Linked DNA regions of Homo sapiens: region 1 is linked to region 2. The links come from fine-mapping of genetic effects on gene expression. A gene starts in region 2. The other region holds a variant in brackets. All regions are shown on one strand. Distances are between the middles of the regions. Region 1 has its middle 63 kb from the start of WDR17. Region 2 holds the start of WDR17 (WD repeat domain 17).

Region 1 (4,400 bases), 62 kb before region 2:
TTTATACAAAGGCCCTAAAAATGGGTCCTTCTAAGACACTTCCAGGGGTCAAGCAAGAAGAGACTATGAAAGTCTTGATCACAGCTAACATTCATAGGCAAAAATGTCCTCAGCTTTCTCTTTTTTCCTTTCTTCCAAGTTGGCTACTGTCTATAAACTCCAGAAATTAGTAGTCAAAGCATCCCCTAACCCTTGAGCCTGTGGGAATACAGGAATTTCAACCCGAGCACGTCAGTCCCCAAGGCCTCCTTTACTCTTGGAGAAATCCCTCACAACAAAGGACAAGGGAGAAGCAAGGGGGAGGGGCGCCCAGTGGACTTGGCTGGAAGAAGTGAGCGGGCTGGGGTTGGAAGAGTAACTCGGGCTGCGGGCTGAACGCAGTCGGCAACCGCGGAAGAGCAGCATCTCCCCTGCGCCTGTGGATACGCCAGTCCAGGGATGGCGAGTGCTTTCTCCTCCCCAGCTTCTCCCTCGCTCTTCGAGGTGACTCGTGGGACCCTGCGTCCTAGTGCTGGGTGTGAATCGGCTATTTCACACCCAGTTCTTCCTCCCCTCCGCCACACGCAGTCACATTCCTGGAGCTATTCCAAGCTGCCTCCGCTAAGCACCGAATAAGCGGACCCTGCCTGGAAACTTGAGCGAAGCTGAACTGCGCCGAACTCCACCGTCCAGTGACCCGAGCCAGTGTGGACGCCCTTTTAATCACGCTGTTTACCCAGGTGGAATTTAGGAAGAATCAGCCTTCAGCCTCAACCTCAAACCTTTTGTGCAAATGGGCACTTCGTTTGGAAAGGGACTAGAAATTGTCCCCAGTCTGGCCCTGCACCAGCACCTTCCTCTGCTCAAACCTGTACAAAGTGGAAGTTTTAGGAAGTTTCCATTTCTCGTGCCCCGTTTCAACTTGCTCCCCAAAGAGAACATGAAAACGTGGGAACTCGGGAGGACAGAGATCTCCCTGTAATCGCCTCGCTATTCGGATCCTGGGTCTCTTAGTCTTTCTTTATTTCCCAAATACCGCCCCCAGCACGGTAGACCGGACCCCCAGGCTTGGGTCCTGGGGCCGGCGCAGAGGATCAGCGCCCAAGCGCAGCCCCCCACCCTCCCGACCCACTGTAAACAGTCGGGCACCCTCCCTCGCCTCCAGGTGCCACCCCATCGCCATCGCCTCTCTCCCAGAAAAAAAAGTCCGGAGACAAGAGGGCGGGGGGCGGGGGACGCCAGGCGCGGGGGGAACAGAGCTGGGAAGGACGCAGTCTGAGGCCGAGGAACATTCATTTTCTTTCTATAATGCCCATTCCCGAGGCCGAGCCTTTGGGCGAGGTGTACGCGCCCGCCCGCGCACTCACCCATGGCCCGAGGTCCTGCTTCTCTGCAGTCCCCAGAGGAGAGCGAGTGACCAGACGCTGCGCGGGGCCAAGTTCTCCAAGCCGCGCTGAGGCTCCTCGCGCCCTGGCAAGTGACAGCCTCGCCCCTCCCAGCGGAGACAACTCGCAGGGCGCCTGGCGACTCTGCGGGCGCACAGACCCCTCCCTCTTTCCACCTGCCTCCTCTGCGAGAAGCCCGTTTTCCTCCCCTTCACTGTGGGTCTCCTCCCCAGAGGCCCCCACCCTGCCCCCTTTCACTTTCATTAGAGACACGTGCAAAGTCTCTCTCCTAAATACATTGAATGCACATTACAGACACACACGTTGTCTCAGCACCCCACAACCGACTCGGTAGCCAAGATAATGATCTCTAAGTGGAGTCTGGAAATAGATTATTCCAAAAGACAGGTTTCATATGATAATTTTATGTTCCCTTGTCTTCTGTGTACCATTTTGTTTCTTAATGATAATAACATTAATAAAGACAAGAGGAAGAGAAAATTCTCCCTTTAATTTATCCTTTGTCATCTCCTCTTTCTTCTACATAAAATATGTTTCTGTAATTGGACAAGGTTATAAAGTTCTAAAAACCATACACTCAAACACACATGCACACACCCTGACATACACACACACACACATCATAATATGCAGAAATCACCTGGAAAATAAACAATTCAATCCAAGAGGCAGTTGATGAGGCTGAAAGAGCACAGGGCTTGACAGTTGAGAGGATGAGTTGTAATCCTGGCTCATTTCCTAATTTGTAAAATGAAGGATCTGGAAAAAGTGATCTCTAAGGTCTCCTCAAGCTAAAAAAAAAAAAAAAATTATATAACTCTATGGGTTATTGACCTAGTTCTTTCAAGAGTCATACTGGAGAAGTTATTTCAGTAAGTCAGTCCCCAAGGTGTACACAGCTTTTTCATGCAAAGCACACCCAAAAGTATACATATCTATGCTGTGAGCAAGTGGAAGAATAAAATAAAATGGATATGATTACTTACCTTGAGGAACATTGCTATCTAATGGGGAAAAGGTGATATGAAAAATAAATAACAATATTTTTAGCAGAATGCATGGATAAATGCAGAGCATATCATTCAAATGCCACATAAACATCTGCACAGCTCTTTCTCACGTAATGGAAGAGGTATACTCCTGGCAGGGGTGTGTAAATGCACTTCAGTTACATGGGAATACAGTTATTCTTATGGGAGGGGAAAGGAAGTAGTCAA[C/T]AAAAATTAAAAGTGTTCAACATATCATTCAGAAATGCATCACCCTTCTAGAAATTGACTAACATGAACTGTGACTGTAGCAAAGCATAACACTAATACATTTGTTCAATAAATATAAGTTGCTGGCTCACACTTGTACTTCTGGCACTTACAGAGCCTGAGGCAGGTATATCCCTGAAGCTCAGGAGTTTGAGATCAGCCTGGGCAACATAGTGAGACCTCGTCTCTCCAAAAAAATAAACAAAAAATTAGCTTGGTGTGGTGGTGCACGCCTGTAGTCCCAGCTACTTGGGAGGCTGAGGTGGAAGGATCACTTTATCCTGGGAGGTTAAGGCTGCAGTGAGCCAAGACTGCACCACTGCACTTCAGCCTGGACAACAGAGTGAGACCGTGTCTCAAAAAAAAAAAAAAAGATAAGTGATAGATTTTGGAGATTGATTCATAAGCTCAGTTTTAGGATCACCACAAGCAACTTACAATCTATCTCCTGAAGACTTATTCAAAATAATATTTGAATTCTAAAAATTAGAACTGTTTTTTGTTTTTTTCCCATCGGATTCTATGATAATCCTGAAATACAAAATAATAATTATAACATAAACTGAGTACAGTGTGCTAAGTGTCAGGCATTGTACTAAGGGCTTCATATTAGCTAATATAATTCTCACTAAAAAAGGAAAATACTGTTATCCCCACTTTACAGATGAGGGAATTAATCCACAAAGAGATTAAACACTTGCCCAAATTCTCATAATAAATGGGAATGCAAAATTCATACCCAGGACAAAATACTCCAGAGTTCATGATCTTAGTCAGTTAACCACATTGTTTCTCAGTATCCAACTGGTTTGCCACATGCTTGAGAAAGATGGTGATATCTTCCAACAATAAATATAATTCATAATTTTTTTTTTTTTTTTTTGAGACAGAGTCTGGCTCAGTCACCCAGGCTAGAGTGCAATGGCGCCATCTCGGCTCACTGCAAGCTCCACCTCCCGGGTTCATGCCATTCTCCTGCCTCAGCCTCCCGAGTAGCTGGGACTACAGGTGCCCACCACCACGCCCGGCTAATTTTTTTTTTTTTTGTATTTTTAGTAGAGATGGGGTTTCACTGTGTTAGCCAGGATGGTCTCGATCTCCTGACCTCATGACCCACCCACCTCGGCCTCCCAAAGTGCTGGGATTACAGGCGTGAGCCACCATGCCTGGCCTAATTCATAAATATTTTTAACATTCCCAGTAAAATATATGAAATTTAGAATACACTAAAGATACAAATCATCATATACTGGCTTTTAATAATCAAAATCATGATGTTTTCTTTCCTTTGCCTTATTATAAGTGAATAGATCAAAATGTTGATGTTGAATTCATTTATCTTACAGTGATGATGTAAATGGTGTCAGTATCCTAGATCTCAGGTATAGAGAGGCCATTATCTCCCCTGAAATCTAACAAGTTACATAATTTTATATGGGATTCAATAAACATATAAATTAATTCATTATCTTACTTAGTACATTATTTTTTTACTCTAATTATCCGGTATTTCTGCTTTCTCATTCCTGTCACCTAATTGTCCATCAAGTCCTAAGGTTCTGTTTCCAAAATATTCTTCCCATTCATCCCGCATCTTCAGTTTCATTGCCTAGACCACCTTTTAGCAAGTCCTGTGGAAATATAACTAACACTTCTTTTTAAAAACGGAGATACTTACCAACCATGGGACTCAAAATTAAGGCTTTAGCTAAACTTGTAAAATTCTGAGATGAATATAAATTTTTCTTTTCTTTTCTTT
Region 2 (4,400 bases):
TTTTCTTTGTGAGGTGAGTATATGACATTAAATACTGGTTGAATAAAAGAATAAAAAATCAGAGTAAAGAGATCTTTGTTTTATAAATTAGGTATATTGTTCCTCTAGATCTAATCTAACTATAGTTGTGATTATTTAAATCTGTTCAAAAGGAATGAACTAAATTCTGGTAAAGGAATAAGAGTCCTGAACTGGGAGACCGGGATCACTCTATCAAAATCTGCTGCTAATATGACTGGAGATTTAAACACCTTCATCTTTAAATTATGAGTGCACAACTAGATAATTTCAGTTGTCTCATTCAATTTTATGTTTCTTTCTTTTTCCTTTTTCTTTTTTTTCTTTTTTTTTTTTGAGACGGAGTCTCACTCTTGTCACCCAGGCTAAAGTGCAGTGGCGCAATCTCCGCCTTCTGGGTTCACGCCATTCTCCTGCCTCAGCCTGCCGAGGACCTGGAAGTACAGGTGCCCGCCACCACGCCCAGCTCATCTTGTATTTTAGTAGGAACGGGGTTTCACCACCACGCTGCCGTCAAACTCCTGACTTCAGGTGATCCGCCCACCTCGGCCTTCCAAAGTGCTGGGATTACGGGAGTGAAACACCGCGCCCGGCCGGTTTTTTGTTTCTTAACTGGAGAGCTGGAGCCATTATGAGCAAAATAAACATAAAAGATTTTTTCCGTCCAACCGATGGACTAAGCTAGACGTTGTATCTTCAGCATTTTCTCTTCATGTACACCATTGACTATTCAGCACTATACCTAGCAAATATCAGTCATAAATGAAAACTATAGTCTGTTTTCACAGAAATGTTTCTTGTGATTTTCCCTCTTCGCTATTCTTATTTTCATTGTCTTAACTCAGGTCATCAGCATCTTTTCCCATGAACTACTGAATTTTTCTCCTAACAGACCATGTTCTTCATCTTCCTGCATCCCATGTATCTCCAATGTTTCCAAGGTGTCTTTCTTGATGAAAAAGCACTGATTTTATAAACTTCAATCTCTTCCTTTGGTTTAGAGGTTAAAGCCTAACCCATATATAGAATTCTGCATCTTTCCCAATCAAGTTTTCTTATTTTTCTAGTACAGTCTTTTGCCAATTTCCATCTTCCTTCTTATCTTTGGATTCACATCCCCAACTCCGGAGAAGGCAAAAACATCAAATTTATTTACATCAATCGTTTATTTTTTCCCACTTTATGCTTTTGGCAATGCTGCTCCTGCTGCATAGTATACACTTTCCCCTTTTTATCAGGTGAAATTCTACCTATTTATAAGTCCCTGCTCAAATACTAATCATATTGAAAGCTTCTCTGAATACCTTGGAAGAAAAAGTTCTGCCTCCCTCATCTGAAATCATCTCATAGCACTTTTATGTAACCCTATTTTAGTACTTAACACATTGAGTTATATTTAGTTATTGCCCTTATACTTTCTCTGGTAGATTATGTGCTAATTTCTTTCTTTCTTTATCCATCTATCCATCAAGAATTAATTGAAGACCTGCTATTCATCAGATACTTTGTTAGAATATAGGGGACGGAGTTGTAAGAACTGATTTTAGCTTTAACAAGTTTATTCTTTATATGGAAATCCAACATTTAAGTTAATTTTAATTTACAATATAGAATATTGAGTGCTGTGGTAGGTACTCGTCTCTGCAGAGAATATTTTGGAAAAAAGGAGCATTAAAATCTACTGCATAGGAAGGTAAGAATTAGGCCCAGGGACTTTCTCTGGTTGAGGTCGACCATTCATTTATTAACTATTTAGAGTGGAGTATAATTAATTCTCGATAGATGTCATTAAATACACTTTGTTTCGAGTACGTCGAGGCTTATTCTCTCTAGTGTGTTGGATAAAGGCCACAGGTAGTGAAGATATTTCAGAGATGTGAAGAATCCAGTAGGAATGACAACATCCAGCACTTCCATTCAACCAGATCCCACAGGGAAAATGTCAGTTTTGTGAAGGCAGATACATTAACCACATACAACTCGATTAATATAAACAAATAATCTTATCCATTGAGCTCTCCCACAGACCTTCTTGGGCCCAATCAGACAATAATGAAGTGCAGGCGAGACAGCATTCTGCACTCACATTCCAGGCACTGGTTCAAGTCCCTCCTCCAGGTCCCTCAAGAAAGAGACAGGATGACTGACTTACTGTATATTTGACTCATTTTCCTAGAAAGTGCAGACTCGCTATAAAATGTGTTAGGTGGTGAGAACGCTGATGGTTCACCGTTTTCCTCCACTTTCAGCCTCAGTGCAAACCCTCTGCCCAAAGCCTCGCTCCAGTACGGAGGAGCTGCGCCTTCAACACACTTTCTCTGTTGCCAGGTAACCACTTCTCCCTCAGCCTAGTCTCCAAGGGTCACGAGCCACTTCCGCCTCCCCCTCTCGGGCGCTCCAATCAGCGACCTGTGTAGCTGTCACGTGGGCCTCTGGGGCAGACCCTGGAGATCGGGCTCGCGGCGCCTTCCATCGTGGCTCCGCGCTGGGGCTTGCGGAGCACGCTTCCCGCCCCTCGGAGCCCGCGGGCCCGGCCGCCCCGCCCCCGGGCGCCCTGAGCGAGCAGGCGGGGAGGGCGGGGAGGGTCCGCGCGTTGGTGGTGCTCGCCTCGCAGCTGCGCCCGCCGGCTTCAGCACCTTCCGCTGTCCGCCGCTGCAGCCGCCTCCTCCTCCAGGTAAGAAGCCGGTGGGGCCGCAGAGATACCAAGGCAAGCTCAGGATTGATGTGGGTGATGCTGGAACTGTCGCGGCGTCATGCGAGAGGGGCTCTGACCTCCCTGTGATCGCGGACCAGGGTAATGTACGTCCTGCAGGGCTTTGCACACCATGGTGCCTGATGAGATAATCAACTGAGTTTTAGAGCCACACACCTGATTCTTACAAGGCACAGCAAGCAGCGAATATTTATGTATCTAAACTACCATTGCAGTGTAAACTGTGGACATTTCGAGGGACATTGTTTTATTTTTATGGCTATTAAGTATATGTCTAGAGCCTAGGTTGCTGTTCTCATCCCTCCGCCGGCCAGACACTTCTGTATAGATCATTTACCCCTTTGAAGATGGACTTATTAGTAGGGTTGTACTAAGAAAGGTTTGAGTAAAAAGGAAATGCGTTCCAGAAAAAAGACGGTATTGGATATAAGGCAGGTATACTATTTATTAAGTAGATCGTAAAATAGAATCTTTGCTGTCCTCCCCTCTCCAAAATCAGACTTGTTTTGCTTGCAAAGATTGAAAGGAACAAACAATTTAAGGAGACTTTTTAAATATATTAATTAAAAGCAATTGATTCGAATGAAAAGTAATGAAAAGTCCGACCATGCATCAAAAATAAATTATTTTGCATATTAATATATACATATATACTATATATATTTAACAAGGGTTTGAAGAGAGATACTACATTTCTGAATCTTTCATAAATACCCTTTAGAGAAAACTATCAAAAAAACACAAGTTCGTTGTAAAAGGATACGAAACGGCCAAAGCCCAACAATGTGAGATTATAGTTGCCGTTCTTAGCACTCTAATAACATTTCTGCGTTGTAAAAATTAGAAAATAAATGACAATGAATTTATGAGAATTTATAAATTTGAACTCCACAAGAGTTTAAGCATTAATTTATTTGTAGATTTATGCCTTATCATTACCCTGCTTGCCAGGAGCTGATGCTGGGCGGGTGGTGAAACAAACTCTGTGGAGAAAGCACTCTTACATCCTTTTGAGATTCTGCCTCACTGGCCTAAGTGTTCAAGAAAATGGATATAGTTATATCTAACTGTTTTGAAGGCAGACGTCTGAGATAGGTGGTCTGAGAACCTTTCCCCTCCTATCATCTAAAATTAAATATAGTTATTAAGTGCTTTTGAAAAGTTGTCAATTCGTTAATATTTTGGGAAACATCCTTTACTGGATTGTTTGGAGATTAATGTTACAAATGGTAGCTTTAGAGTTCCTGGGAAGTTTTAAAGCAATGACTTATTTCAAAGGGCATATACGGAAAGTAAAGCTCTTGAGTTCTGCAAACGTAATTATGTAAAAATAACTAGTTGAATGTTATTGTTTACATTGTTCTGACTTTCTCTTGTGTTGATATTAATAGAACTGCTTAAAAAACTGTGGACATCTGAAGAAGACGTTAAATATGCTTACTTGAAAGTTTTAACATTCTTTATTCTTCTTATTTCTAATGATAAATAGTGGTGTTCTAAATATTTTTAAGTTACCCATTAGTCACATAAATAATTCCATAGATTAGAAAGCCATAAATTAATTTAGGCCAGAAAAACAATGCTCCCAGTAGAGGGGAGACTAGGGCTAGATTGCTTTTGTTGTTGCTGTTTTCTACAGACTCTATCTTGTATCCTTTAGTCTGGGAAA

Evidence for each region. PIP is the estimated chance that this variant, and not a neighbour inherited with it, causes the effect. A credible set is the group of variants that fine-mapping cannot tell apart.
Region 1: its variant is the best candidate, but not a certain one, in a credible set for the expression of WDR17 in blood mononuclear cells (TOPMed, PIP 0.87).

Annotation. Positions count from the first base shown.
Region 1 is chr4:176,000,963-176,005,362 of GRCh38, forward strand. It overlaps a transcript of GPM6A not described here. Among named protein-coding and RNA genes, the nearest start is that of WDR17, 63 kb to the right of the region's middle. The variant C/T (reference allele first, on the strand shown) is at 2,603.
Region 2 is chr4:176,063,388-176,067,787 of GRCh38, forward strand. It overlaps WDR17 (WD repeat domain 17), which reads left to right and starts at 2,454. Exons shown (of 29, transcript NM_181265.4): 1 at 2,454-2,692. RefSeq lists a silencer at 2,330-2,709.